7 linked regions of the Homo sapiens genome follow. The protein of the gene in region 2 purifies or fractionates together with the protein of the main gene of each other region. This does not show direct contact. Each region holds a gene or a part of one and is shown on either strand. Other genes may lie near its edges.

Region 1 (4,085 bases), on a different chromosome or scaffold from region 2:
AGTTTCTATGTACGTCTTTTTAAAATATATGGTTGAAGAAATACACATTGTACACTGTATACAGTAGCCCAGCTCAACAGCAAGTATCTTCTAAAGCACAAATAACACCTCCACCAGTGCATATCATTGATAATTCCAGTATTACACAGCTAATAGGATCCATGCCAACCTTAAAAAAGAAAAGAGAAGTCAGTTTTAAACCTCTTTCAAATACTGTTATTAAAAGCTTCTTTAAAGGAAGATGAGAATTTTATGCAAATATATATACACAGAAACATGATTATCCTGTAATCTCTATACATCTTCCTGAGAGTTAATTCTTATATCCCTGGCTTTAAAAAAAATAATTCCTATTAATTGCTTTGTGACATAATTTATTAAAATACTTTCCAATTTCCTATATCTGAAATTGTATATTATACTTTTCAAATTACATTTGTTTCTCATGTCTTATTCAATGAATATTTTTAGTTCTATTCTACTCAACTTATTCTTTCTTTTTGCATTCACCAAGAATTATTATTAATATATATTATATAAAATGAAGTTAGAGCTAAAGCAGGAGGATCGCTTGAGGCTAGGAGTTTAAGACTAGCGTGGGCAACATAGCAAGACCCCATCTCTACAAAAAAATTTTTTAATGTAATTAGAGCTACGAGATAAAATGAAAGTAATTCGTTTTACTAAGACAGACATATAAAAGAGTTTTTTGAAATAAATTATTATTAGAAATGAATCTATGGGATATGTTTCTTTAAAAGATAAAAATAATTAGGAAAGATACTTAGAAGTTGTGATTAATTCGGCCGGGCGCGGTGGCTCACGCCTGTAATCCCAGCACTTTGGGAGGCCGAGGCGGGCGGATCACGAGGTCAGGAGATCGAGACCATCCCGGCTAAAACGGTGAAACCCCGTCTCTACTAAAAAATACAAAAAATTAGCCGGGCGTAGTGGCTGGCGCCTGTAGTCCCAGCTACTTGGGAGGCTGAGGCAGGAGAATGGCGTGAACCCGGGAGGCGGAGCTTGCAGTGAGCCGAGATCCCGCCACTGCACTCCAGCCTGGGCGACAGAGCGAGACTCTGTCTCAAAAAAAAAAAAAAGGAAGTTGTGATTAATTCACAAAATCTTGTTCTTTAAAACTATACATCTGAAATACCATTATAATCAAAATAAGATTCAGGTTTGAAGGTCCAATTCCAGGATTTATTACTATAATGAAATTTCAGTAGAATGACCCAATATAAGTAATTCCTTGGAGATTTGTATTATGGGATTTGACTTACACTTCAAATAGGCTTGTGTGAAATTTTCACATTGTAAAATAACATATTACATACATTCTAAAACTCAAAATTTAACTAGAGAACCAAACCTGTATACTAACAAAACAAAGAATAAAATGCCAGTTACTATTTACATTTAGCTCAACAAAGAAACTCAGAAAAATTTACCTATAATTTCTGTTTAATGATAATCTTGCTTAGAATTAGACGCTTTACTTGAAGATACTGCTGCCAAAAGTCCACTTACAATTTCCCGTCTGATTTCCCCAACAATAGACTCTTTAATCTAGATTGGAAAAACAATAAAACAAAAATTTACCAATATGAATGGAATTCATTTTTTCCTGTTTTTGGAAAAAATACAAATAGCATTCAATTTCTTAATTTCACCTTCATGTGAATCTCCCTGCAATACAGAGAGGGAGTGGGGAATCGAGTCCATCTATCATCCAACCCAGATCAGACTCCCAAGGACTGGTCTAGAATTGTTCAGCTAACTAGATTACAAATATCACAATTCATAAGGTGAGGACATTAGAAAATGTTATTTCATAAGTTAAAAAACTTCTAGTAAATACTTTACCTCATGTCAAAAAAATAATCTGGAAGGACTTCTTAAATGTTTTTAGTATTGTCTAACTTTGTAAGGTAATCAGCAGAGACACAAGTGCTCTCATTGCTGAGAAAATCTTTTAGAGGCAAAATAGTATACAGGTATACTGCCTGTTTATGCCAACTGACAGCAAGGTATCTAAAGACATATTGTTCAACCTAACACATTTAAAATGGGAAGAAGAAATTATCATTTAGTACAATTTATTTTATAATATAAAAAACATCCTCAAAACAACCATAAACTCTAAAGAAATAACTTTTTCTTTAGTTGCATGGTATCACTGCCAGCCATCTAAGCTTTTGTTTCCAATATGCATATAGGATATGAGGATATACATCTCATTTTATTGTTGGAAAAGGCAAACAGACCTGAGGAAATGACAATTCCATCAGGATTTTCTTCTACAGGTGTCCAAACACTTACATATGCCTATCTCCACCTTTTCTCTCTAATGATACAGCATCACTTTTAAATAGCCCTTTGTGAAAGCTATAAATGTGTATTTCCTGAAATAAAGTGATAATGTGTTCCCAAATAAGCACTCAAGATACTCTCAACAAGCTTTTAAAAATTCTACATTTCCAGTTTCCTGTCAGCCAAATTGATTTATTTCCTACAATGTTCCTAAGTACATCTCAAACACATCTTAACTATAATCTTTCCAAAAATGGTCCTGTATTAGTCTATCATGCAAAATTGGTACACAATACATAGATTTATACATAGTTATTTAAAGAAACAAAACACTCCTTAGCTACCAACCATCTGTACTGGAATATATTTAAATACTATAAGCTTTTCACTTTACCTTTTATCAATATTTCTAAACTTTAAACAACATCAGAAGATTCTGAAGCACACAGCACTTCAGATTTACTTTTCAAACAAGTATGTGTTGGATACAAATATTTTAAAAACCAGAATCTCTTAGTCACAGTATATAAACAGAAATACAACATACTGAATTAGGACCACTGCAAATCTATATTCACAACAATGAGTATAGTCTTTCCAGTCCTGCTACCAATGCAATATGGCCATTTTATTATATCTCATTATTCTTCATCACTCAAAAAACAAACTAGCCAAAATGTATTCTCTTTTTTTTTTTTTTTTTTGAGATGGATTCTCACTCTGTCACCCAGGTTGGAGTGCAGCGGTACAATATCGGCTCACTGCAAGCTCCGCCTCCTGGGTTCACGCCATTCTCCTGCTTCAGCCTCCTGAGTAGCTGGGACTACAGGCACCCGCCACCACGCCCGGCTAATTTTTTGTATTTTTAGTAGAGACGGGGTTTCACCATGTTAGCCAAGATGGTCTCGATCTCCTGACCTTGTGATCCACCCGCCTTGGCCTCCCAAAGTGCTGGGATTACAGGCGTGAGCCACCGCGCCCAGTCGCCAAAATGTATTCTTGACAAACCAGGAATGTGTGCCAATCTTTTTTGGGAGTACAGGCATTATTGGAATAAAGTATAAAAGAATCCCTACCATCAAGCATGATATAATCTCAATGGACACAAAATGAATACTGTTTCATAAAATATATTTCTTATTTATTTATTTTTGTGACAGAGTCTTGCTGTGTCATCCAGAGTGGAGTGTAGGGGCGCAATCTCGGCTCACTGCAACCTCTGCCTCCCACGTTCAAGTAATTCTCCTGCCTCAGCCTCCTGCATAGCTGGGATTACCACCACACCTGGCTAATTTTTGTATTTTTAGTAGAGATGGGGTTTCACCATGTTGGCCAGGCTGGTCTCGAACTCCTGACCTCAGGTGATCCGCCCACCTCGGCCTCCCAAAGTGCTGTGATTACAGGCGTGAGCCACCACACCTCGTCGGTTTCATAAAATACTAAAGGAAAAATAATTTATTGATTCATTAATGACATAAGAACAAAAAATTTTGATAAATGAGAGACTAGTGTGGGACAAAATTCTCAGAGAATGGCAGCTTTTACATGGTATGTCACAACAAAGAAAGAACAATTTCAGATGACAGTGGAGATAGAAAACTCTGTAGCAAGACGGTCTCAAATAAGAGGGGAGTATAATGGAGCCTGACTGCCAAGACAGTTCCCTCTAGAGAGCAGAAGGGAATCAGAATAGGAAGGGTGAGGTCAGATGGAAGGTGTACTGTGAGCTCCTTCAGCGAGCAGGTCAGGTCTCATTTATCAGTGTATCTCAG
Region 2 (4,085 bases):
GAGCCAGATGCTCCAGTGAGCCGAGATCACACCACTGCACTCCAGCCTGAGTGACAAAGCAAGACTCCATCCTAAAAATAAGTAAATAAATAAAATAGAAAATTAAGTACTCAATAAATGTTCACTGCTATATTCTCTTTTTTCAGTTTTTGCTTTTATTTTTGTTTTTCTGTCACACTGGGCTGCTGCTATCCTGTTTCAGAACTATAGTGAAAATGGGTAGACTAGCTGCTCTAACAAGGGATATGTGCTTTTCCTAGAGAGCAGTCTTTGAGATGTTTGACCAGTGGCTTCCTTCCAGTGCCCCCTTGACCTGCGCCATGGGCTCACACTCCTATGCCATTTAAAAACTGTTTTATGTTTAATTTTCTATTTCCATCTGATACTTGAATCCATGTCATTTTTTTTTAACCCATTATCTTCTGTTTCCCTTCTCACTTGAATGAAGTTGAGAGAGCAGAAGCTTGGTTCATCTTCTGGCTCTCAGTCTTCCCCCACCCCAACTCCCAACTTTGCTTTTGAACTACAACCTTTTTTTTTTTTTTGAGACGGAGTTTCCATCTTGTTGCCCAGGCTGGAGTGCAATGGCACAATCTTGGCTGACCCCAACCTCTGCCTCCGGGTTCAAGCAATTCTCCTGCCTCAGCCTCCCGAGTAGCTGGGATTACAGGCATGTGCCACCACGCCCGGCTAATTTTGTTTTTGTGTGTGCGTGTTTTGTTTTGTTTTGTTTTGAGACAGAGTTTCGCTCTTGTTGCCCAGGCTGGAGTGCAGTGGCGCGATCTTGGCTCACCAAAACCTCCGCCTCCCACGCTCAAGCGATTCTCCTGCCTCAGCCTCCCGAGTAGCTGGGATTACAGGCATGTGCCACCACGCCCAGCTAATTTTGTATTTTTAGTAGAGATGGGGTTTCTTCATGTTGGTCAGGCTAGTCTCGACCTCCTGACCTCAGGTGATCCACCCACCTTGGCCTCCCAAAGTGCTGGGATCACAGGCGTGAGCCACCGCAACCAGGCGAACTACAACTTCGGATGTGATTGTTCTTTTGTTCTGTAGCTCAAGGCTAGACACGTAGGGAAAATGACGCCATTTGCTGGAGGATTGGATTGTCTTTGTTCAGGCTGCAAAACAGCTTTTGCATCAAAGTTGAGGTCTAGGAGAAGGCCACCTCCTTGAGCCCTTCTTGCTAGCTAGAGTCCATGTTCCAGCATGCCAGGACTCTCCAGTGATTTGTTTTTATCTTCCCTCCTCCTGAGCCTTCATCTTTGAGAGAGAACAAAGTGGAAATAGTGCCAAACTCTGTGTTATAAAGTATAGTGGTTTTGCCGCTTTAGCCTTGGTCGACTCACTTTACATTTCTGAGTTGCAGTTTTTCCATCTGTAAAATGGGAATAATAACTCATGAAGTTTGACTCTACAGACTATTATTGTAAGATAAGGATGCAAAAAGCTTGATAAACTAAAGCACTGTTTAGGTGTAAGGCAGTATTATTACTCTCCTCACTTCTTTATCCAGGCTGGACCAGGCTTGCAGGGAACTGGTGCCAGACTCTGTATTTTCATTTTTACTTTCCCAGGATATTCACCTATATAAGGGGCAGAACCCAGTGAGGCTCCTGACCCCATAATATCTTGTGATGGACTTCCATGGTCTTGCCATCCAGGAAGGTTCAGCAACATAGCTAAACTATTGATTTGCCAACTCTCAGCTCCTCCCAGCCATGGTTGTTATAGCTCGGTAATGTGGGTCTGAGAAGCTTTGTTGCCTTCTCTCTACTCCATTGGAGATGCCAAGGAAGAATTGTTATTTCATCTTCTCTTAAAACTTTGACTTGTCTCCTGTAGATGCTTGGCCAGGCTGTCAGAACATCCTGGGAGTTAATGAGAGAAAAATACATATAGCTCCCACTAAGTGCCTATAATGTGTCAGGCACTATAGTTAGTGCTTATCTTGTTTAAACCTCATAGCATCCTTTGAAATAGGTACTTATTATTTCCAGTTTACTGAAAAGAAAACTGAGGTTCAAAAAAGTTAAATCCCTTGTTCTAAGTCACATAGTGAGTTAAGTTGCAGAGCTAGAATTTGAACTTAATTCTATCTTATTCCAAAATTTGTTGTTCTAATGACCATACCATGAGGCCTCCTGTTACCATACAGAAAGAGGGGCCATGTGCTACATAGGAAAACTCAGGAGATTTCCATTCATATGATCTACATGAAGATCCCAACTGCGCCTATGCGATCTGGGACAAGTGGCTTTCAACTTGTCCAAGCCTTAGATACTATCTCATTAACTTGTCACCATAGGTGTTTTTTTTGGGGAGAGGGGGAGATTATTTATTTATTTATTTATTTATTTATTTATTTATTTATTTTGAGACAGGGTCTTGCTCAGTTGCCCAGCCTGGAGTGCAGTGGCAGGATTATGGCTCACTGCAACTTCCAGCTCTTGGGCTCAAGCGATCCTCCCACCTCAGCTTCCTGAGTAGCTGGGACTACAGGCCCGCGTAACCACACCCGGCCAATTTTTGTATTTTTAGTAGAGACAGGGTTTCACCATGTTGGCCAGGATGGTCTCGATCTCCTGACCTCATGATCCACCTGCCTTGGCCTCCCAGAGTGCTGGGATTACAGGCATGAGCCACCGCGCCCAGCCAGTAGATGTTATTCTTATCTCCAGTTTACATTTGAAGGGAACAGGCCTCAGTGAGTTCAGATGACTTGCCCACGGATGCAGAATAGTAAATGGCAGAGCCAGAACTCAGGTCCAGGTCTATCTAACACCTGCTTCAGTGTTCTTTCCACCATTTTTCACAGCCAGCTTCTAAGACCTGGTGTATCATTCAGCTAGATTTATAGCTCTGAGGCTGCTGGTTGGAAGCTGGCATCCTTTTCTGCTCTCTTTCTCCTCCCATACTTTCTCCCTCTTCTTAGAAACCTTACAGAGGCAATATAGGTATTTGAAATTCAAAGAAGAGATTTATGCCGTGCTTAAAATCTGCTCATACTGCCCCATTAGACACCTGGGAATCTGCCTCTCGTCTTTTGTATGGGTTTGTACTGTTACTTTGGTAGCATGATGTGGTGGGTATAGTTTTGGGAATGTTCTTTCTCAGCTCTTTTCTTTATGAGTATAATCTTGTGAGGTGGCTGTAAAGTTAGAGATGATGAATATTCAAGGGTAGCAAGTACAGGCTTATTATTTGATGGCAGTTATTTCCCCTGGCACCAGGATCTAATAGAAACCAGAATAGCAGTCAGGAGTTCTAAATCTTTTACTCCTATTCTTTGACCTTGGATATGTGAGTCACTGTTTCTAGATAGACTGGCTAGTCTTTAGGGGCGCCTTTCAGCTTTAATGTCCTGCACTTTAAAAAATGAAAGTAATAAGATACTTGTTTAAAAAAAATCAAATTAGACAGAAGTATTTGAAGGAAAAAGTGAAAGACCCATATCCTTTCCCCCATTCAGTTCATTCCCAATGTGTAACACTTATTACCAGTTTGATGTATCCTTTTCAGTGTTCTCTGTGTATACTAAATATACACAAGTATGTGTAACATACACAGTTTATATCATGTGCATATATATATAAATACACATGTATATGTTATACGCACTGGAACCTACAATACATATTATGTCTTGGTTCTTTTACTTAACATGTTTTAGCTATTTTTTTCTTGTTGGCACTTAAAGATTTACTTTATTGTTTGCAATGTCTTATACTTTTTTTTTTTTTTTTTTTGAGACGGAGTCTCGCTCTGTCGCCAAGGCTGGAGTGCAGTGGCACAATCTTAGCTCACTGCAAGCTCCGCCTCCTGGGTTCACACCATTCTCCTGTCTCAGCCTCCCGAGTAGCTGGGACTACAAGCACCTGCCACCACGCCTGGCTAATATTTTGTATTTTTAGTAGAGACGGGGTTTCACCATGTTAGCCAGGATGGTCTCGATCTCCTGACCTCGTGATCCACCTGCCTCGGCCTCCCAAAGTGCTGGGATTACAGGCGTGAGCCACCGCACCTGGCCACAATGTCTTATACTTTATTAAGTGTTGGCTGGACATGGTGTCTCACACCTGTAA
Region 3 (4,800 bases), on a different chromosome or scaffold from region 2:
CTGGAGGCATCATGCTATCTGACTTCAAACCATACTACAAGCCTACAGTAACCAAAACAGCATGGTACTGGTACCAAAACAGATATATAGACCAATGGAACAGAACAGAAGCCCAGAAATAACACCACACATCAACAACCACCTGATCTTTGACAAACCTGACTAAAACAACCAATGGGGAAAGGATTCCCTATTTAATAAATGGTGTTGGGAAAACTGGCTAGCCATTTGCAGAAAACTGAAACTGGACCCCTTCCTTACACCTTATACAAAAATTAACTCAACATGGATTAAGGACTTAAGACCTAAAACCATAAAAACCCTAGAAGAAAACCTAGGCAGTACCATTCAGGACATAGGCATGGGCAAAGACTTCATGACTAAAACACCAAAAGGAATAGCAACAAAAGCCAAAATTGATAAATGGGACCTAATTAAACTAATGAACTTCCACACAGCAAAAGAAACTGTCATCAGAGTGAACAGGCAACCTACAGAATGGGAGAAAATTTTTGCAATATATCCATTTGACAAAGAGCTAATGTCGAGAATCTACAAGGAACTTAAACAATTGACAAGAAAAAAACAACCCCATCAAAAATTGGGTGAAGGATATGAACAGACACTAAAAAGAAGACATTTATGCAGCCAAGAAACATATGAAAAAACGCTCATCATCACTGGTCATTAGAGAAATGCAAATCAAAACCACAATGAGGTACCATCTCATGCCAGTTAGAATGGTGATCGTTAAAAAGTCAGGAAGCAACAGATGCTGGAGAGGATGTGGAGAAATAGGAACGCTTTTACACTGTTGGTGGGAGTGTAAATTAGTTCAACCATTGTGGAAGACAGTGTGGTGATTCCTCAAGGATCTAGAACCAGAAATACCATTTGACCCAGCAATTTCATTACTGGGTATATACTCAAAAATCATTCTACTATAAAGACACATGCACACGTATGTTTACTGCAGCACTAGTCACAATAGCAAAGACTTGGAACCAACCCAAATGCCCATCAATGGTAGACTGGATAAAGAAAATGTGGCACATATACACCATGGAATACTATGCAGCCATAAAAAAGATGAGTTCATGTCCTTTGCAGGGACATGGATGAAGCTGGAAACCATCATTCTCAGCAAACTAACACAAGAACAGAAAACCAAACACCGCATGTTCTCATTCATAGGTGGGAGTTGAACAATGAGAACACATGGACACAGGGAGGGGAACATCACACACCAAGGACTATCTGGGGATCCGGGGCCAGGGGAGGGATAGCATTTGGAGAAATACCTAATGTAGATGATGGGTTGATGGGTGCAGCAAACCACCATGGCACGTGTATACCTATGTAACAAACCTGCATGTTCTGCACATGTACCCCAGAACTTAAGTAATTAAAAGAAAAAGGAAAATCAAGTGATTTTGCTTTTGAAAATTCCTGCTAATGTTTTTCATGCAACATCTCTTTCGTGTGTGGCTCAGGGGTAGAACATTGCATCAGGATTTGCTCATGGGTCTCATGTCTCTTCCTCCTCCCCCAGCAAATGACGGCTGCTCGGAAACTTTTATAAAGGAAGCGGTTGCTTTGTGGCTGATAGATCTGAAGGTGAAGAGCTTCTGGCCAAAATGATTCAGCAGCAAAACACTCCCCTCCCCAGCACCACGCAGGCAGCCCCCTAGCCCCGCCCCTGCCCCATCCCACAGTGGTTTGCAGGGTGGGGTTCCATGCTGTGGCCCTGGCACCTGCCCCTGGGCTGGGACAGCCCACTGTTCCATGCTGCCCAAGAAGGCTCAGCACAGGCACAAACCATTGCCCGGCACTGGCCCGTGCTGCCTGAGAAGGATTGGCACGGGCACAGACCACTGCCCCCACCTGCCCTGCGCCATCTACCCAAGAAGGCTCGGCACGGGCACCAACCACTGCCTCCAACTGCCCCATGCTGCCTGAGAAGGCACTGCACGGCCACCCCCAACTGCCCCGCACTGTCCCTACCCGGGCAGCCATGCGAGCGGCTGGAACTCTGCTGGCCTTCTGCTGCCTGGTCTTGAGCACCACTGGGGGCCCTTCCCCAGGTAAGTGGCGTTCTCCCCTGTCCGCTCCCCGGGGGTCTCTCCCTGAGATTGGCCACTGGTGCCTTGGGTCTTCCCCAGGGCACTTTCCTAGCTTGGAGCCCCCACAGGACCATGCGGTGGTGAGAGGTGCTGGGAGTGGTGAGAGGGGCAAGGGGCTCCATCTGGCTGCAGCTACCTTTGGGGGTAGCAGGCTACAGGGATGAAGGGTTTGGGGGCTGCCCCAGAAGGCTAGGGGCAAGGGAAGCATCTTCTATTCTCTGGCTCTTCACAGAGGTCTGAGAAAGGTCTAAGTAAGGCAGGTCTCCCGCAGCTCCTCTGCGGGACGGAGGCGACAGGGCAGCCACATGCCTGTGGTTAGCCGCTTCTATCTGATGGCTTGTCATTCCTTCCTGCTGGCTGTTGTCCTGTGACTTGGCTCCAGGGACCCTAACGATCAGACTCTTTCACCCTTCCTGAAATCCACTCCCTGAGGGTCAGCACTCAGGGGGAGGGGGGACAGGGAGGAAAGAGCCACTGCCTGTGCACTGGGAAACTGAGACACAGCCAGGCTAGGTGATTTGCCCAAGTCACACAGCCAGGGACAACCTGCTCTCCCCCAAAGGGAACTGGGCCATGGCCTCCCTGGCACAGGAATCAGACCAGGATACTGATGGGGACTTGGGAGGCCCCCACCTCATTTAACCAACCAGGAAGCTGGCACCAGAGGGCTGAGGTGACCCGCTCAAGTCATATGACCCCCACCCAGCAGACAGGGACAGAAGGGGGCTGGAGCCTGGCCAAAGGGGCCCAGGTGGGGGCTGTGCAGCAGGACCACTGACAAGAGGATGGCTCCAGAGCACCCAAGGGGTTCTTGGAGGGTTCTCACCTCCTCCTGGTGAGTCAGGATACTGAGGACTCAGTGATGCTGGGGGACACTGTGTCGAGCTCCCAGGCCTGGCCTAGGGCGGACGCTGCGACTGAGCAGCCAAGGGGACACGGCAGGCTGGAGGAGGGGCCGGGGGCAGCTTCTGCTCTCACTGATGGGAACATGCCACCGCCACCAGCTCTGGGTAGTGCTCAGCGAACATGGAGCTGACCCATGGCTGGCAGAAGGCTGGGGACAGCATACCCGGCCCTGCCTCCCAGCTTGGGAGCCTTCTTAGCTCACGCAAGGAGCCCTCCACCTGCTTCCCAGCCTCACAGGGGCCTCTCCTCCTGGCCCTGTCCTGATGCAGTGCTGCCTGCCTGCTGCCATTCTGTGCCCTGCCCCTTCGTGTCTCCAAGGTCCAAGGGGGAAGCAGGGAAGAGAGGCAAGTTCACTCCAGAGAAGTGGCTCGTTCTCACACCTCAGAAAAGGCTCTCCTGGAGGGGACATGGAGCCAGCTGTCCTAGCGTGTCCTGGGATCTAATTAAACCTACTGACTGCTGAGGGGTTTCAGAGCTCTGCTCATCTCACGGAGCAGGCTAGGGACTATAACAGGGTGGCGTGGGAGCCGATGTGCTGGGCAGCTGGCAACGTCATTTTCCTGGGTGGTGTTCCCGGCCCCTCGCTGGTATGTAATGCTGCACCAAGCCTTTCCCTCCATTCTCAGCAGACCTGCTGTCAGCCACCAAACCCCAGAGAGAAGCTCCAGAGCCCACGTTCACACACACAGAGCGGGCCCTCAGCCTCAGTCCTACCATCCATGAAATGGGAAGATAACTGCACCCCGTCTCCGGCCCTGGGGAGGCTGAACAGAGGTGGCTCGGGGAAGGCACAGGCATGGAGGCACATGGGGCATGGGGTGCTCTCCGCCAGCCTCAGCCCCCTGCTCTGTCTAGTGCAGGCCCTTCTGCCACTGTGCTGGTGACAGCCCCCAGCACCCTGCCCAGGCGCTGTGATCATTTCTGGTGCTTCCAGCAAGGGCCTTCAGTCTTCGGCTGTATAGGGAGGGTGCTGGGAGGCCCCCAGTCTAGCAGCAAAAAAGAGATGGGAACCTGGGCCCCAGACACAAGCATGCGTCCTGCCCCCACTCCACAACTCCTACAGCCCCTCCGCTGCCTCCTCTGAGAATAAATTACAGAGCCTTCCTCATGACTGAGGGGGGTAGGGGGCGGGGAAGCAACAGGGACCCCAAGGGTGGTGCCGTCTGAGCATCTGGCCTCTCTCCACACCCATGCACTGAACTGCACAGACCATAGCGCTGAGCCCCTCAGGGCACCTCTCCTCCCTGAGGCTTTCAGAACCTAGGAAATTGCCACACTGGCTTCCGCCACCCTTTTGAAAAGGGCTGTTTCTTTCTCAATCTGATGGGCATCTCTTCTGGGAAGCTCTGCCAGGTGCCATGTCATCCTCTGCCCCCTCCACTCTAGCTGCAACGGCCCATCTGCCTGGACAGGGGCCCTGGGGTCAGGGAGCCATTTCAGCTTCCCTCTGCAAGGTGATGTCAGTCCTTACTTCCCAGTAGCAGAGAGACCACTTGCAGCCCGGGGACCTCCTGCCTCCTGGGGAGCACTGGGAGCTGCCGCAGGCTGAGCCACCGTCTACGTGGCAAGATTTGTTTTTCCCAATGGGGGCATTCATTTGCCCTGAGACCCCTGCTGTGGCCATGTGCATTTTGATATATTGATAATGATTACAGTTTTGCACATCATTTATTGACAAGTGCTTCGTGTATGTTGCCTCATATATTCTCACTGTCGTCAGCATCCTCATTTTACAGGTGAGGACACGGAGGCTCAGAGAGGTTAGGCAGCT
Region 4 (4,085 bases), on a different chromosome or scaffold from region 2:
TTCATGTGCCTGAACTGCCCCATCTCCAGTCTGCTTAATATTAAACTCATCCTTTAGGTCTCAGCCTGGGTGGAGATCACTTAGGTTAAATAATCAATCTTAACATTATTTTTCCAGCATAATGTTGGCTTCTGGAATGCTCTTATGTAATATATAAACCGTTACCTTTATAAAATCTGAAAAATTCTTAAACAGATGATAAATAAGCAAAAACAAAAACAGAAACAAAAACAAAACAAAAAATAAACCCAAAAAAACCACCCCAAACTAATAAAGTTTAACTTCAACAAAAGGATATTGGCTTGAGGGAGGTTGTGTTAATCTATCTTTTGAATTCATTTTGACTGTTGTAAAGATAATTATAGCTTGGCCTAAATTTGCTTCTTACTACCTGTGTGACTTTAGGTAAATCGTTTAACACTGTACTAATAAGATTGAACTGGATTTACAATTGAGGTACAGTTAAACTCTAAATTTCTTGGATTTTACATTTCCTTTATTGATCACATAAAATATTTGATTTTGATCTAGGTAGATTATTAGGTTATTTCAGCATTTGGAATTTGTTTTGTGCTTATCAGTAATAAAAAACAAGTTAAAATACTGTGTTTTTGTGTGTACACGTTTCCAATTTTTAAGTTTCTTGCATTTTTAGTGCTTGTGGATGCTCTCTACGTTTCTTATAGCATCAGTGCTTTTAAGAGTTTAGTGACTAGTCTATATATTTCATTATGAATTAGAAATTACTAGAGGTCAGTAAAGATGTTTCTCTAATTTAGTGGTTCTTCACTCTATTTGGAAGGGGGTTCATTATTTGTAGATGCCGTTTTAGTAGGTGTTTAGGAGGTGCATGAAGATAAGCATATCTTTTGATGAATGTCTGGAATTGTTACTTAAAATTTTTAAATAGAGAAAGCCCATCAGACTAACAGCAGATCTCTCTGCAGAAACCCTGTAAGCCAGAAGAGAGTGGGGACCAATATTCAACATTCTTAAAGGAAAGAATTTTCAACCTAGAATTTCATATCCAGCCAAATTAAGCTTCATAAGCGAAGGAGAAATAAAATCCTTTCCAGACAAGCAAATGCTGAGAGATTTTGTCACCACCAGGCCTGCCTTACAAGACCTCCTGAAGGAAGCCCTGAATATGGAAAGGAAAAAACAGTACAAGCCATTGCAAAAACATACCAATTGTAAAGATGATTGACACTATGAAGAAACAGCATCAACTAATGAGCAAAATAACCAGCTAGCATCATAATGACAGGATCAAATTCACACATAACAATATTAACCTTAAATGTAAATTGGCTAAATGTCCCAATTAAAAGACACAGACTGGCAAATTGGATAGTTAGAACCCACCAGTGTGCTGTATTCAGGAGACCCATCTCACATGCAAAGACACACATGAAACATTTACCAAGCAAATGGAAAGCAAAAAAAACACAAAAAAAACAAAAGGGGTTGCAATCCTAGTCTCTGATAAAACAGACTTTAAACCAACAAAGATCATAAAAGACAAGGGCATTACATAATGGTAAACGGATCAATGCAACAAGAAGAGCTAACTATATATACATGCTCCCAGGATCAGGAACACCCAGTTTCATAAAGTAAGTTCTTAGAGACCTACAAAGAGACTTAGACTCCCACACAATAATAGTGGGAGACTTTAACACCCCATTGTCAATATTAGACAAACGAGACAGAAAATTAGCAAAGATATTCAGGACTTGAACTCAGCTCTGGACCAAGTGGACCTAATAGACATCTACAGAACTCTCCACCCCAAATCAACAGAATACACATTCTTCTCAGCATCATATTGCACTTATTCTAAAATAGTAAAACACTCCTCAGCAAATGCAAAAGAAAATCATAACAGTCTCTCAGACCACAATTCTAATTGCAGTCAAATTAGAATTCAGAATTAAGAAACTCACTCAAAATTGCACAACTACATGGAAACTGAACAGCCTGCTCCAGAATGACTACTGGGTAAATGATAAAATTAAGGCAGAAGTAAATAAGTTATTTGAAACCAATGAGAACAAAGACACAACATATCAGAATCTATGGGACACAGCTAAAGCTGTGTTTAGAGGAAAATCTATAGCATTAAATGCCCACAGGAGAAAACGAGAAAGGTGTAAAATCGACATCCTAACATCACAATTAAAAGAACTGGAGAAGCAACAACAAACAAATTCTAAAGCTAGCAGAAGACAAGAAATAACTAAAATCAGAGCAGAACTGAAGGAGATAGAGACACGAAAAACCCTTAAAAAAATCAATGAATCCAGGAGCTGGTTTTTTGAAAAGATTAGAAAAACCAGACCACTAGCAATACAAACTGTTTTGTATTGGGAAGGCTGTTTCATCTACATTTTGTATTGGGAAGGCTGTTTCATCTACATTTTGTATTGGGAAGGCTGTTTCATCTACATTGAAAATCTGTTGATTAGTCACTTCCATTAATTATCTTAGCTAGATCTTCTGGATAATTTGCTATGGTTTCTGTATCAGCACTTGCTGCTTCTCCTTGCGCTTTTATCTTACGGTGATGAATTCATTCCTTAAACTGCATTAACCAGCCTCTGCTAGCTTCAAACTTTTCTTCTGAACTCTGAGCCTTCATAGAATTGAGGAGAGTTGGGTTCTTGTTCTGGATTGGGTATTGGCTTAAGGGAATGTTGTGACTGATTTGATCTTTTATCCAGATCACTAAAACATTCTCCCTATTAGCAGTAAGGCTGTTTTGCTTTCTTAACATTTGTGTGTTCACTGGCGTAGCACTTCTGATTTCTTTTGATAATATTTCCCTTGCATTCACAGCTTGGCTGTTTGGGTTAAGAAGCCTAGCTTTCTGCCTATCTCGGTTTTAGATGTGCCTTCCTCACTATGCCTACCTATTGTTTCTAGCTTTTGATTTCAAATGAGATACCTGTAACTGTTTTCATTTGCACACTTAGAGGCCATAGTAGGATTAATAGGCTTAATTTCAGTATTGTTGTGTCTCAGGGAACAGGGAGGCCTGAGGAGAGGCCTCCCTGTTCCCTGGGGATGGCTAGTTGGTGGAGCAGTCAGAACACACACATTTATTGATTCCTTTTTTTCTCTAATGTTCATTTTCTAGTTACATATTTTAGCAGTGGAAGGTATCTTAGATAAAGCCTGTTATTTTACTTAAGGTGAAAATGAGTGTTCATGGTCATGGAACACGTTTTTTTTTGATTTAGGATGATAATCCTGCCAGTAGTTTTAAAATCCATTAGAAAACCTTGCTAAGATAAGAGTAATTTTGAGGCTAGGCCAAGGAGAACAGAAAATATGGCTGGGAAAGGGAAACAAGATGAACTTGGACCAGATGTGCTCAGAGTGGAGGTTGCATTAATAGGATATCAGTTTGTCCCTTCCCAACCTTTGGATGTAGGGTAAAAGACATCTCTCAAGAATCTTTCCCTGAATTCCACCCCATCTGCTTCCTGACTAGGAAAGGCCCCTACTAAATGATCCCCTGGGACCTGCACCACTGCTTAGTAACTAACACTTTTCATATTCATAATTATTTGTTTGGTGACTGCATGCTCTTCTAAAATAAAAGCCCATGGCTAAATGGAGACTGTTTGGTTCACCCTTAATTGCCACCGTAACACAGTGCCTGTTGCCTGGTAAATAACTGCTGGTTAATAGGCTGCAGTGCTATCAGTTTAAATAAAAGGATTGGTTGATTACATTTACACAAGTGAAGAAGATAAGGGAAAGCATAAATACTTTTAGATTTGGTAATAAAGACAGTGTCTTCCCTCTTATTGATCATTTTGGTTCTTAGATTTTGATAAGCAAGACTTGTCATCCTATTTTAGCTTTATAATGTAAAGTTCTCTATTTAAATTTTTTTCAGGTCCATAGTACTGGTATGAGTTAGGAAAAAATGAAGTTAATCTCTAATAAACTGTTGAATGTAATAAGAAAATCCAAAGTCATTCCTAGTAGCAATCTCTACTGAAAGGATCTGAGGATAGACCTAGGATATTTTCATCAGAATCTCTTGTAATATTAAGATAATTCTTTTGTAGAGT
Region 5 (4,085 bases), on a different chromosome or scaffold from region 2:
AAATACCAACTAGGAAAGGACATTAGGAAGATTGATTCTTTGAAGTCAGAGATATAGCTGAGTTTGAGGCTGAGTTGCATATATACTTGGAATTGCAGAAAACCATGTTATACTAACAACACTAATATCAAACCAATATTTATACTCTACTTTTCATAAGAAACAGTCACTTAATGAAAATCAATTACCAAAATATAATTCTGGTAGTAAAAAAGAAGAAAAAGATCTAATCATGGAAACTGAGCTTAATGCCAACAACATACCTGCTACCACTCATTACATAACCTGAGCATTCAAATGATGCAATTTCTTCACTTGTCAAGCCAATTTCACCTCTTCGTGGGATACGTTTTCCAGCTTTTACATATTCAGCCATAGCTGCACCTTCACCAGGTAACAGAGCATGGCCATAGCTACAAAGTAATTCAGAATTCAGAAAAGGTCCATTAAATCATCTTAATATTAAAAGCTTATAATCTAAAGAGAGCACCAAAAATCCCCACATTTTCTCTCAAACAAGAGTAGGAATAACAGTGCTCAGCAGTAGTGTGCTAGGAAGCTCAATGTGAATTGCTTTATCCTAATTAGTGTATTAAACATTGCATTGCACTATGACCTATACAACTAACCCAGAAATGCAGAAATATTTTGAAAGAAAAGAACTGCTGTGAGTATAGATTCACAGTTTACAATTATGGATTAATTTATCCCTACAGGTATTGTCATTACTGGTTCTGGCTCCAGCTGATTCCCTTTCCCTTTTTCCCTTAAAAAATCCAAAGTATGCCAGGCACAGTGGCTCACGCCTACAATCTGAACACTTTGGGAGGCTGAGGCGGGAGGATCACCTGAGATCAGGAGCTTGAGAGCAGCCTGGCCAACATAGCGAAACCCCGTCTCTACTAAAAATACAAAATTAGCCGGGCATGGTGGTGCATGCTTGTAGTCCCAGCTACTCAGGAGGCTGAGGCAGGAGAATCACTTGAACCTGGGAGGCAGAGGTTGCAGTGAGCCGAGATCGTGTCACTGCACTCCAGCCTGGGCGACAGAGTAAGGCTTTGTCTCAAAAAACAAAACAAAACAAAACAAAAAAAAAAAACAAAGTAGGCTGGGTGCAGTGGCTGACGCCTGTAATCTCAGCATTTTTGGAGGTTGAGGCGGGCAGATCACTTGAGATCAGGAGTTCGAGACCATACTGGCCAACATGGCGAAACCCCAGCTCTACTAAAAATACAAAAATTAGTCCGGGCGTGGCGGCAGGCGCCTGTAATCCTGGCTACTTGGGAGGCTGAGGCAGGAGAATCACTTGAATCTGGGAGGTGGAGGTTGCAGTGAGCCAAGATCATGCCACTGCACTCCAGCCTGGGCAACAGAGTGAAACTCAATCACACCACTGTGCTTCAGCCTGGGAGACAGAGTGAGACTCCATCTCAAAAAAACAAAACAAAACAAACAAAAAAAAAATTCTAGACCAGGTGCGGTGGCTCACGCCTGTAATCCCAGCACTTTGGGAGGCTGAGGCAGGTGGATCATGAGGTCAGGAATTTGAGACCAGCCTGACCAACATGGTAAAACCGTATCTCTACTGAAAATACAAAAAAAAATTAGCTGAGTGTGGTGGCGCGTGCCTGTAATCCCAGTTACTCAGGAGGCTGAGGCAGGAGAATCGCTTGAACCTGGGAGGCAGAGGTTGCAGTGAGCCAAGATCACGCCACTAAACTCCAGCCTGGGCAACAGAGCGAGACTCCGTCTCACAAAAAGAAAAAAAAATTCTGCTGGTAAAAAAAGAAAAAAGAGAAAAAAAGGAATAAAAAATTCTGTGAGGATCAAAGAGAAACAGAAATCACACCTACTTGTGGAGGGGAAGTATTGGGAATCAGCATATGCATCTCCTTTTGAAAAGGGCTTCGAAGGATAGTAAGGATTTTAACAGGAAGAAACTGGCGATAGGGAAGAAAACAGAGGGCAGGGAAAAGAAGGGAAGGCATACTGGATGAAGAAATAAGCTGAACATGGCATAAAAGTTGCAAAGTGCACATTAAGCCCAGGGAATATTTAGTAGTCCAGCTCAGCTGGAACCTGGAGTAGAAATAAGGGAATAGAGTCAGATAAGCTTGGCAAGGTAAGTTAGAACCAGACTTTTTGGTAGGTACTTTAGATATTATAAACACACTGCTGCTTACTTCAAAGGTTTATCATCTTGAGAGGTAAGTGTTTTTGGAGCCTCTGGGCCAATTAAATCTGATGGTTCTTCAGCCTCTGCATGAAAGATATTAAGAAACACATTCACATTCTGACTAATTGGTTACTTTAATGTTTCATCTGTTCTGAGTTAGTCTATCAGAAGAACCTACTTGTTCGATCCTTCCAGGGATTTTCCAGAAACTCTTCTTGGGATTCTTTAGAGCTTGAATCACTGGACTCTTTTCTGCTCTTCTTAGACCTCTTTTTCTTATATTTCTTCCTATAGGGATTTTAATTTGATACAAATTCACTTAATCTTCCTATGTTAGAGGGCATCTTAATTTTTCTTTTCTTTTTAAATTTTGAACTGGTGACTATACATCTTAATTTTTCAAGGCAAAGAAAGGTGACAATAAAATGATCTGAATTCCCAGCTTATTCAAACTTACAAGATAATTTTACTTAAAAAAATCTGCTTCTAACTGAACCTGGGAAACAGAGCAAGACCCCGTCTCTATTAAAAAAAAAAAAAAGTAGCTGGGTGTGATGGCACACATCTGTAGTCTAAGCTATTCAGGAGGCTGAGGCGGGAGGATCACTTGAGCCCAGGAGTTCGAGGCTGCAATGAGCTATGATTAGCCCACTGCACTCCAGTCTGGGCAACAGAGCGAGACACTGCCTCTTAAGAATTTTTTTAAAAAGTATTCTAACTTATTTAACCAAATCATCTTTTGCTATAAAAATTATCACTAAAGGAGGCTGGGTGTAGTGTTTCACCCCTGTAATCCCAGCACATTGGAAGACTGAGGCGGGTGGGTCACTTGAGCCCAGGGGTTAGAAACTAGCCCTGGGCAACATGACGAAACCGTGTCTCTACAAAAAATACAAAAATTAGCCAGGTGTGGTGGCACACGCCTGTAGTCCCAGGTATGGGGAAAGTGGGGGCAGAGGTGGGAGGATGGCTTGATCCTGGAAGGTTGAGGTTGTAGTGAGCTGTGATCGTGCCACTGCATTCCAGCCTGGGTGACAGGGTGAGACACGGTCTCAAAAAAAAAAAAATTCACTAAAGGGAACAATGAAATACAGTTCTGATGTTGTAGAAAGACAACAGAAATAAAACAGCCTAAAAAGTCCCAACAATTTGAACATTATGAATAATTTTATGTGTAATGGATTAAAATATGTCAAATATGTTTAAATCCTTGGGTTAATAATACTTTTTAAAAATCCAATTCATTATTTGAAAAGTCATTAAAACAAAAAAAATCAAGCAATTATCCTGCTCTTACAATATAAACTATATTTCAGGGTATCTAAATAGTTGATGAGGGTAAGTTTCTCTTATAGAATCATTCTGCCTAATAAATGAAGGATAAAGCCAGGATTAGACTATCACCATTTTACAACCCCTAATGAAATAATGGATCGAGATAATGACCATCAATGGCTGTTAATATGACAAAAAGTGACAACCAGACATTATTTGCCTCCTGACAGTAAACAGCACCACTTATGAAGTATTCTTGCCCCAACTCAAATCTGAGCCTTCTCAGGCCTCTAGACCTATTAATCTATTGGAAATACAGAGGACAGAACATGCCAAAGAATACCATAAGAATACGGTCACTGCAATTTAGGGACATTATTTGGATCCTGATTGGAATAAACTACAGAAAAAACTGCTGAGAATAGAGGAATTATTATTAAATGTTTTAGGCACAATAATAGCATTCTGGTTATGGGTTTTTGTTTTTTTTTTAAATATAGAGACAGGATCTCGCTATGTTGCCCAGGCTGGTATTGAACTCCTGGGCTCAAGCGATCCTCCTGCCTGGCCTCCCAAAGTGCTGAGATTACAGATATGTGCCACTGTGCCTGGCCAGTTTTTTGTTTTGTTTTGT
Region 6 (4,851 bases), on a different chromosome or scaffold from region 2:
AGAGGACACGGCACAAAAAGGCCTGGGAGCTGAAGAGAGGTGGAGCCAAGGCCAAGAGACGCCAGCAACCTGAGGAGGGGCCACGCGGTACTGAGGGCAGGTGTGGAGTCTGGGGACCATGGGCCTGCAGAGATGCAGCCAGCTTTGCTGTCCCAGCACGTGGCAGGAAGCAGGAGCTGATGCGGCCCCAGGTCTTGGCATTGGGCCCGAGCACCGCACAGAGGGTCATTGTCCATGGGCAGTGGGCATGGCCAGCTGGGAAGCCAAGCAGGGGCATTTGCCTCTCTGGAGATGTGCCCAAGGGATCGGCAGGGTCCTCCCAAGAGCTCTCTCAAAACACCTCACCTTTAGGTATTCAGGGCTTTTGGTGTGTTTGCAAACATGGCAGGACAGCAAACGCTCTTCACCTTGTTCTTCTTGTCAAAAAGCAGGAGGAAGAGACCAGCCAGGGCCTGGCCACGTACTTTGTGACCTCAGAACACTTACTGCCCCTGACTTGTCTGCTGCAGATGGAGACAGGATTCAACAATGGCCATCCCAGCTCTAAACCACAATTCCATTCTTCTAGACAAAAACTGGGTAGCAAGGATAATTCCCCAGATGACATCAAAAGGCCATGTTGGTGTCACCACCACCTCCAGTGCTAAATTGAAGTCTCAGGGGAAGGACAGTGTGGCGGTTAAGAGGGTCCGGTCTGGACTGATGATCGGGTTCAGGTCCCAAAGCTGGAATCCCTGGTCATGTGACCTTGAGCAAGTCACTCGCCTCTCTGAGCCTCAGGTGCCCTCTGTAACATTAACGCTGCTGATGCCCACCTCTGGGTGACTGTGCAGGCTGCGTGAGCCAAGACCTGGGCCCAGGTGGTGGATGACAGCGTCCTGCTGGGCTCTGACATTTGTCCTTTAGGTTCATGGTCATCCCTCCTTATTCTTTTGGTCCACAAGTGCTCATGGAGATTCCTAAAGATGCAGACAAGGTAGAGCAGATTTTAATTGCTGCGGAATGAATGAATGAATGAAATGAAAGCCCATGCTAAGCACTGTGTAGGCATGCACTTCAACTCATGCTCTTAACAACCTATGAGGAGGAGCTACTATTATCCCCATGCTATAGATGAGGTCATTGGGGCCCAGAGAGGTGAAGTACCTTGCCCAAGGGCACACAGCAAAGCAGTGGCAAAAATAGGATTCAAATCTATTCTCCTGGGTGAATTAATTGATGGAGATGTGTATCTTTGATGTATTTAGGAATAAGGGGTGGGTAAGGCTACTCCTTCCTTTTCCCAAATTGATTATCTGGATTAAACAATTGTTGTAATCCCTCTACAAAGGCTCATCCTATTATAAGCAATAATAATATTAATGGCAACGGCCACTCACATTTATGGAGTGCTTATTCTGCTATATGCACTGTGCTTCTCTCAGCCTGGACCTTCCTTTCTCCAAACCTCAGGAAGCTGGAGTCCCAAGGCTGCCTCCGGGCGGGGCTGTGGTTCAGCAGAAGCCACAAATATTTACCTTGGAGACCTCGGCCTGGTCTGAGGCCTCTGCCTAAAGACAAAGCCTGTGCTGGGGTGTGCAGGATATAAGGTTGGACTTCCAGACCCACTGCCCGGGAGAGGAGAGGAGCGGGCCGAGGACTCCAGCGTGCCCAGGTAAAAGTAGGGAAGGGGCTGAAAGCCAAGGTTGCCAGGAAGGTTCTGAGCTAGAGATACCTGTTGGGGTCAGGTCAGGAGCACAGGGGAGGCTCGCCCTCAGGGAAGGGCCCTCGGTGAGTCAGGATCCGCTGAGGGTCAGGGCCAGGTGTAGAGAGATGCCCAGCTCCCTCGCCCAGAGGACCAAAGGGCAGTGACGAAGGGATGGGGCTGGCTGAGTGTTTTCCTGACCTCTTCCTAGTGACATAAACCCACTCTGCACATACCAGTTGCTCTGTCCCAGCTGTGCTGCGGTGGTGCTGGGACAAAAGAAGCATGAGACGCAGACTCTGTCCCTCAAAGAACTCCCAGTGCAGGACAATGTGGTGCCCAAGGAAGACCCAGGGACATGGGAGTGGAGGACAGTCAAAGAAGGGATCCTGGAAGAGGTGATGTGTTGGTTGCAAAGCCGAGTAGAAGGCGATTGGGCAAAGGAGGAGAGAAAGATATTCCACGAAGGGGAACTAGCAGAAGCAAAGGCTGGGAGAGGAGGTGCCATATGACAGGGGCGTGTGTGGTGCCTGGATCTGGGGGAGGAGAGTCTTTTCCACAGGAGGGAAACAGGGATGCTACCATCCTCGTGGGTCCCTGGGTTTCTCTGATCCAAAGAGGACTGAGCAGTGTGTACAGATAATGCAGGACAGACAGAGTCAAGGTATTTGCAAGGAAAATATGGAGTGGGGCCACAGGGGTGCCTGGATGCCGGGGTTCAGCTCTGTCTTCTGGCTTTGGCTGCAAGGTGTCTCCTTCTGACTCCAATATTAGTAATAATACCTGTCATAATTATCGTGGAAGCTACCATCTACTGAACGCTTGGCCATGCCAGGCCACAAATAGATTGTCTCATTTAATCTTCCCAAAAAGCCTATGACATAAGTACTATAATTATTCCCCATTTTATAGATGAGTAAATGGAGGCTCAGAAAGGGTAAGTCACTTGTCAAAGATCACAGAGCAAGTGGTAGAGGCAGGCCTCCAACTAGGGTTCATCTGGCTGCCAAGCCAATAATATTTTCCCCTCCACCTTCAGGCCTCCTAACACTAACCTTTTCAGCTTAGCAGGCTCAGATTTCCAATTCTTTCGGGGCTTCCAGAGGCTATGCAATTATTCAGCAGCCATTTATTAAGCACCTGGTCTATGCCAACCACTATACTGGATGCCAGGGACACAGCAGGGAGCAGGCAGACCCAGCCCTCCCTCCCAGAGCTCACAGCTTGGTCAGGGAAGCAGAGGCTGAATCATTATTGCAAGGGTCTCAGAAGAGCTCACACTGCTCCAGGGCACAGGAGACACATGTCATCCGGATGCCACATTTGTCTTTGGCAAAAAGAAATCCACATGCTGAACCAAGCGAGGGGCTCAGATCTCTGCAGCGTCTCCCCTCCCTCCAAGCAGGACAGTCCACAGGGGCAGGAGCTTCCATGGGGGGCTGGCAGACAGAGCCAGGGTGCAAGCTGGAGAGCTCAGGACTGGACTACAGATGTTGATGCCACACCCCTGTGGAGGGAGGGGACAGAGCAGCCAAGGGGCCAGAATACCCCCAAGCTCCTCTCCCTGGCATGAGCCACAGGGCCCTTTCTCTCTCTCTCTTTCTCTCTCTCTCTCTCTGCCCTTCTTTTCCTGGCTCCAAGAAGCCATTCAGTCCCTCCCCAGCCCCCTTAGTATTGCAGATTAAGCAAAGAGCTTTTTCACAACTTTGAGTCCTACCTGGCTCCTCATTTCCTTCCTGCCTCCAACCTTCATGTCTTGGGCCCCAGGACAACATTTCTCCAAGTGTGGTCCAGGTTCCCTGTCTGCAGGACAGGGGAAGCTTTATAGGGAAAGTGACAAATCTTGGCAGGGTTTTAAAGGATGAATAGGAGTTCATCAGGGAGATATGGGAGGAGAAAAGCATTCCAGGAAGCAAGGAAGAGCAAGAGCAAAGGCACGGACACAGGAGAGAACACAGTATGTTCTGAGACCTTCCAACTGCTTGGAACTTGCTAGAACAAGGGGAGAGAAAGCAGGAGGTGAGGTCAGCAGACGGTGAACCATAGAGGGTTTTAAGTGTCAGACTGAGGGGTGGGAGACACGGGAAGCAGAAGTTCTTTGTTCTGAGCATTGTTGCTGGATTTTCTGTAAGAAAATAGCTAATACAGGCTGGGCGCGGTGGCTCACGCCTGTAATCCCAGCACTTTGGGAGGCCGAGGTGGGCAGATCACGAGGTCAGGAGATCGAGACCATCCTGGCTAACACGGTGAAACCCCGTCTCTACTAAAAATACAAAAAAAAAAATTAGCCTGGCGCGGTGGTGGGTGTCTGTAGTCCCAACTACTCAGGAGGCTGAGGCAGGAGAATGGTGTGAACTCAGGAGGTGGAGCTTGCAGTGAGCCGAGATGGCACCACTGCACTCCAGCCTGGGTGACAGAGCGAGACTCTGTCTCAAAAAAAAAAAAAAAGAAAGAAAATAGCTAATACATTCCAAGTGCTTACCATGTGAAAGACACCGTGCTAAATGCTTTCCAGATATTAACTCACTTAATCCCTCAACTCTGGGAAGCTGGGGTCATTATCCCCATTTGTCTGATAAGAAAACTGAGGCACAAAGAGGTTACGTTGATTGCCTAAGGCTACACAGCTAGCCCAGGCAGTTAAACACTGCACTCAACAGCCTCTCCTGGACACCGTGCCCCAGGTCACCGGGCATCATGGGCCTGCCCTTGGCCCCTCTGCCTCAGGTCCCTCTGTGCTCACCCCAGGTCTGGCATCCTGCACTTGCTGCCCTCTGACACCTGGGAAGATGGCCGGCCCGTGGACCTTCACCCTTCTCTGTGGTTTGCTGGCAGCCACCTTGATCCAAGCCACCCTCAGTCCCACTGCAGTTCTCATCCTCGGCCCAAAAGTCATCAAAGAAAGTAAGTTTTGTCCCTCCGGAGCTGGCTGCCATAAGACAAGGGGGTAGGTGGAGCAGCTTCCCAAAGGAGGGAGAGAGTTCCTCATCACGGGGGATGTGCATGGCTGAGATCCCAGAACGTGGGTGAACATGAGTGGGAGGTTGTAAAGGTCTGGAGAGTCTGTGATCTCAAGAGTCCACGATTCCAAGAACCCCTTCTTAAATTCCACAGTTCCAAAGACCCTGAGTTTCCACAGCCTGCAGAAGGGGCATGCAGCCACTGCA
Region 7 (4,085 bases), on a different chromosome or scaffold from region 2:
TGACCTTGGCCAATTCACTCATCTCTCAGAGCCTCAGCTTCCTCATCTGTAAAGTACGGCCAATCCTGCCTGCCTCCCAGGCTGGTGTTGAGGTTGAAACAAGAAAATATGCCAAGGATGCCCAGGCCCTAGCAGGTGCTCTGCAAACATCAGGTGTTCTGCAAATATCACTTCTCTCGGTGCACTCGCTCGTGATTCTTTTATGTCGCATTTACCATGGGCTCTGATTCCCATCGGTCAGTCTCCGTTTTTCAGTGCTTTTCCTAATGGTGTAACCAGGGTAGAAGCTACTTCCTGGCACCACACCAGGGACAGGGCAAGCTGGGTGTTAGGTTTTTACCACCAGCAGGCAAGCTCCTGCTGTGCCTGGCCAGCTTTTAGGCACAGGCAGGTGTCAGACAGGTTCGTCTGGACCGTGGACTTGGCAGCTGGCTCCCTTGGACATTGTGGAACGTGGAAGAGAAGCTGGAAGATTTGGGCTTTGGTCCAGAGTCCACCACTTGTTTATTGACCATAAGAAAGTTTCCGTTCCTCTTACCCTGAGTTTCTTCAGCTGGAAAATGGGAGCCATGATTTTCCCACCTAGCAGAGGGCCTTAGACAGTGAAGTGAGCTGACTAGGAAGTCCTTCCCCTGGACCTGGCTAAAAGTTCATCCACTCCATGTGGTCTCTCCCTTTCCTGAGTAGGGCTTGGTCTCCCCGTCTCGAAAGTGAAGCTAAACCTCTCAGGCTGGTGTGACACAGCATTAGAGATAAAAACCTTGTGTAACTGAAGTGCTGGACATATTTAAGGTGTGACTGTTGAGCTGTTAGCAGTCCTGCGTCCCCTGACCTGCACCGATGGGTGGCGTGGGATGTTGAAGAGCAGTTCAGCAGCAGTGGCCACCCCGCTGGGAGAAGGGGCTCCTGCCCATGACCAGGGCCCCTTGCCTTTCCCCACAGATCCTGGCTGCAGCTCTGACCGAATGTCACCGGAAATCCAGTGCCCAAGGCAAGCCTCTGGCCCTGAAGGTCTTTGTGGCTGGCAGAAACCGTCTGGAGAATGATGGCGCCACTGCCTTGGCAGAAGCTTTTAGGGTGAGTGGTTTCTGTCCATCCTGCCCCTGCAGCCTTGAGGTGCACTCGGCATAGTAGGCTGACAGTTCTGGATGCTAATCCCAGGGCTGGCACTCAACCAAGAGACCTGGGGCGTCACGTGCCCTCTCCAAGCCTGTTAACCCATCCGAAAATGAGCCAGAATTCCTGTCGTGCATTTCTGGAAAGGTGTGTGACTTTCCGGAAAGGTGTGTGACTGGCTCCCACTGGTGAGCCAGCCCCTATGGGGCTTCAGGCCAGGCAGGCCACTCTGACCAAGGAGTGTCATCTGCCAGGCTCAGAAGTGGTGAAGTGAGATGGTGCGAGTGCTGACAGTAGCCTGGCCCAGCCACTGGTGTGGGGCACAGAGAAGGAACATACCAGACCTCCAAGACAGGGAGATAGGCAGGGGCAGCCGCAGGGCTCAGGTGCCAAATGACGTGCTCTCAGGTGACCTTATCCCCACTCCTCTTCCACTCTCCTCTCCCCATCCCCGCAGGACATTGCTGAGTCCCCGATCGTGAGTGCCAGCAGAAGGCTACACTTGCCCCTAACAGGACTGAAAACTTTGGGGTCTGTCTCCCTCCTCTCTTTCCTGTTTTTTTTGAGGCAGAGTCTCATTCTGTCACCCATGCTGGAGTGCAGTGCGTGATCTTGGCTCACTGCAGTCTCCGCCTCCCAGGTTCAAGCAGTTCTGCCTCAGCCTCCCGAGTAGCTGGAATTACGGGCACCCGCCACCACACCCGGCTAATTTTTGTATTTTTATTAGAGACGGGGTTTTACCATGTTGGCCAGGTGGTCTCGAACTCCTGACCTCAAGTGATCTGCCCGCCTGGGCCTCCCAAAGTGCTGGGATTACAGGCGTGAGCCACCACGTCCGGCCCCTCTTCTCTTAATTTAAATGTTTTCTTCAGCAAACAGTATCCTAGGAGCATTGCTCATACGGGCCGGAATGTCCTGGCTGCCCATCGAGGCTGTCTGTAGATACCCTTTGCCTGCTTCAGTGCCAAGTGAACATCGCAGAGATCTGCCTTGTGTCTCCCTGCACCCCTGGCTGCAGGGGAGCTCCTGCTGCCTCCTCTGGAGCTGGTGGGGGCCTCACTGCCATCCTTGGATCCCTCCCTGCCGTCAGCCTGCTGTCCTCAGTGCACTGGGAGGAGGGGGTGCGCTGTGGTTGTGTTGAGCCTTCATAGGTGTCCTCTGGTGGGCTTAGAATGGGGGTTCTTAATCCCCCCCAGTATGTGGATAGAATTCAGGGGTCTGTGAACATGGATGAGGAAAAAATAACATTATTATTTATTACTAATGTAGCTAAAATATGTAGTGTGACCTTTGATTATAAATGTAGACAATAAACCTCACAGCATTAGAAAGGCCTGTGACTACCCACATAACAAACAAGCACATGTAGTCCCTGAACCCAAAAAAAAAAAAAATTTTATTGAGGCAGGGTCTCGCTCTGTTGCCCAGGCTGGAGTACAACGGTGCAATCTCAGCCCACTGCAGTTGAAGCTTCCCAGGCTCAAGTGATCCTCCCACCTCAGCCTCCCGATTAGCTGGGACTACAGGTGTGCACCACCATGCCCACCCAGTTAATTTTTGTATTTTAGTAGAGATGGGGTTTCACCATGTTAGCCAGGCTGGTCTCAAACTCCTGACCTCAGGTAATCCACTCGCCTTGGCCTCCTAAAGTGCTGGGATTATAGGCATAAGCCACTGCGCCCAGCTTAAAATTTTTAAAAAAATAAAAAGAAAATCTTGTGACTTTATCCCCAGTGGAAATCACAGGTATTTCATATGAAGTTATAGTTACTGCTGATATATAGAAATATTTCTCACTACATCAAAATTACAGTAATAGTGGACCCACCCCTAGATCTTGTTATTTGGTGCATTAACAAGAAGTTTGTATATCACTACAGCATGCGTTTGGAGTTTTTTCCTAAATGTTTTGATAACTGTTCCAACTGAGTTGATTTCCTTTGTAATTCTGTGTAATTTATCTTAAAATTTTAAAAAAACATTTTTTGAGGAGGGGACCCAGGGGCTTCACCAGACTGCCTGAAGGGTTCATGGCACAGAAAATACTAAGAAGGCCTGACCTGGAGTGTGCCCAGGTTGGCCTTCCTGTATTTATTTGTGGACCACCCGCTCCCCCCATTGCCCTGTGCTGCACTGAGCACCTGAAGACAGCAGAAGATTCCTTGGCACAGTTAAGCCAGGCCAACCCTCAGTCCTGGGTCACAGTGGAGACTGGGACATGGCCCTCTCCTCCAAAGCTCAGGGGCCGATGGGATGCAGACGGAATATAGGCTTTGAATGTAGGCAGGATGAGGACCACCGTGATAGAGGAGGGACCAGGTGCTCCGGGAGCACAGAGGAACGCACACTGGATCGTGGCTGGGGGAATCCAGGAAGCCTTCCTGGGAGAGGAGGTGACCAAAACAAGAGCCCTAGAACTCATATGAGTTAGCCTGTCAAGAAAATGCTGAATGGCTGGGTGTGGTATCTCACGTCTGTAATCCCAGCACTTTGAGAGGCCGAGGAAGCTGGATCGCCTGAGGTCAGGAGTTCAAGACCAGCCTGGCCAACATGGTGAAACCTCCATCTCTACTAAAAATACAAAATTAGTCGGGTGTGGTGGCGCACGCCTGTAATCTCAGCTACTCAGGAGGCTGAGGCAGGAGAATCACTTGAACCTGGGAGGCAGAGGTTGCGATGAGCCAAGATCATGCCATCACACTCCAGCCTGGGCGACGGAACGAGACTCCGTCTCAAAAAAGGAAAAAAAAAGAAAAAAGAAAAAGAAAATAAGGAGGCAGAGAGAATGGGTATCAAAAGGCCAGGCTGTGATAGGGCTGCATGGGCCAGGGAACACCCTCCTCATCCCTAGAGAAGGACGCCATGTCGAAGGGGTTATGTTGTGTAGGTGGGTGGGCTAGGAGGGCCCCTAAGAAAGAAAGGTCACATGGAGCTATGTCATCCAGAGAAGGGGCATGAGTGCCTGCCCA

The links.
Region 1: the proteins of ZCCHC17 (region 2) and ITPRID2 purify together in Homo sapiens (affinity purification with mass spectrometry; 2 studies listed by BioGRID and IntAct, with this or other methods). This does not show direct contact.
Region 3: the proteins of ZCCHC17 (region 2) and CST7 purify together in Homo sapiens (affinity purification with mass spectrometry; one large-scale study listed by BioGRID and IntAct). This does not show direct contact.
Region 4: the proteins of ZCCHC17 (region 2) and DIPK2A purify together in Homo sapiens (co-immunoprecipitation; one study listed by IntAct). This does not show direct contact.
Region 5: the proteins of ZCCHC17 (region 2) and NKAP purify together in Homo sapiens (affinity purification with mass spectrometry; one large-scale study listed by BioGRID and IntAct). This does not show direct contact.
Region 6: the proteins of ZCCHC17 (region 2) and BPIFB1 purify together in Homo sapiens (affinity purification with mass spectrometry; 2 studies listed by BioGRID and IntAct, with this or other methods). This does not show direct contact.
Region 7: the proteins of ZCCHC17 (region 2) and RANGAP1 purify together in Homo sapiens (affinity purification with mass spectrometry; one large-scale study listed by BioGRID and IntAct). This does not show direct contact.

The regions. Positions count from the first base shown.
Region 1 is NC_000002.12:181,925,645-181,929,729, reverse strand, and holds part of ITPRID2 (protein ITPRID2), read right to left. Parts: intron 1,570-4,085; coding exon 1,465-1,569; 3' UTR 1,452-1,464; intron 170-1,451; coding exon of another isoform or gene 74-169; 3' UTR 1-73.
Region 2 is NC_000001.11:31,359,453-31,363,537, forward strand, and holds part of ZCCHC17 (zinc finger CCHC domain-containing protein 17), read left to right. Parts: intron 1-135; exon of another isoform or gene 136-1,345; coding exon of another isoform or gene 1,346-1,378; intron 1,379-4,085.
Region 3 is NC_000020.11:24,947,492-24,952,291, forward strand, and holds the start of CST7 (cystatin-F precursor), read left to right. Parts: upstream 1-1,777; 5' UTR 1,778-2,014; coding exon 2,015-2,084; intron 2,085-4,800. UniProt on the Homo sapiens protein: Inhibits papain and cathepsin L but with affinities lower than other cystatins. May play a role in immune regulation through inhibition of a unique target in the hematopoietic system.
Region 4 is NC_000003.12:143,981,461-143,985,545, forward strand, and holds part of DIPK2A (divergent protein kinase domain 2A isoform a precursor), read left to right. Parts: intron 1-4,082; coding exon 4,083-4,085. UniProt on the Homo sapiens protein: May play a role in cardiomyocyte proliferation through paracrine signaling and activation of the PPI3K-AKT-CDK7 signaling cascade.
Region 5 is NC_000023.11:119,929,753-119,933,837, forward strand, and holds part of NKAP (NF-kappa-B-activating protein), read right to left. Parts: intron 2,465-4,085; coding exon 2,355-2,464; intron 2,260-2,354; coding exon 2,184-2,259; intron 414-2,183; coding exon 264-413; intron 1-263. UniProt on the Homo sapiens protein: Acts as a transcriptional repressor. Plays a role as a transcriptional corepressor of the Notch-mediated signaling required for T-cell development. Also involved in the TNF and IL-1 induced NF-kappa-B activation.
Region 6 is NC_000020.11:33,281,601-33,286,451, forward strand, and holds the start of BPIFB1 (BPI fold-containing family B member 1 precursor), read left to right. Parts: upstream 1-1,613; 5' UTR 1,614-1,654; intron 1,655-4,432; 5' UTR 4,433-4,473; coding exon 4,474-4,588; intron 4,589-4,851. UniProt on the Homo sapiens protein: May play a role in innate immunity in mouth, nose and lungs. Binds bacterial lipopolysaccharide (LPS) and modulates the cellular responses to LPS.
Region 7 is NC_000022.11:41,258,438-41,262,522, reverse strand, and holds part of RANGAP1 (ran GTPase-activating protein 1), read left to right. Parts: intron 1-942; coding exon 943-1,077; intron 1,078-4,085. UniProt on the Homo sapiens protein: GTPase activator for RAN. Converts cytoplasmic GTP-bound RAN to GDP-bound RAN, which is essential for RAN-mediated nuclear import and export. Mediates dissociation of cargo from nuclear export complexes containing XPO1, RAN and RANBP2 after nuclear export.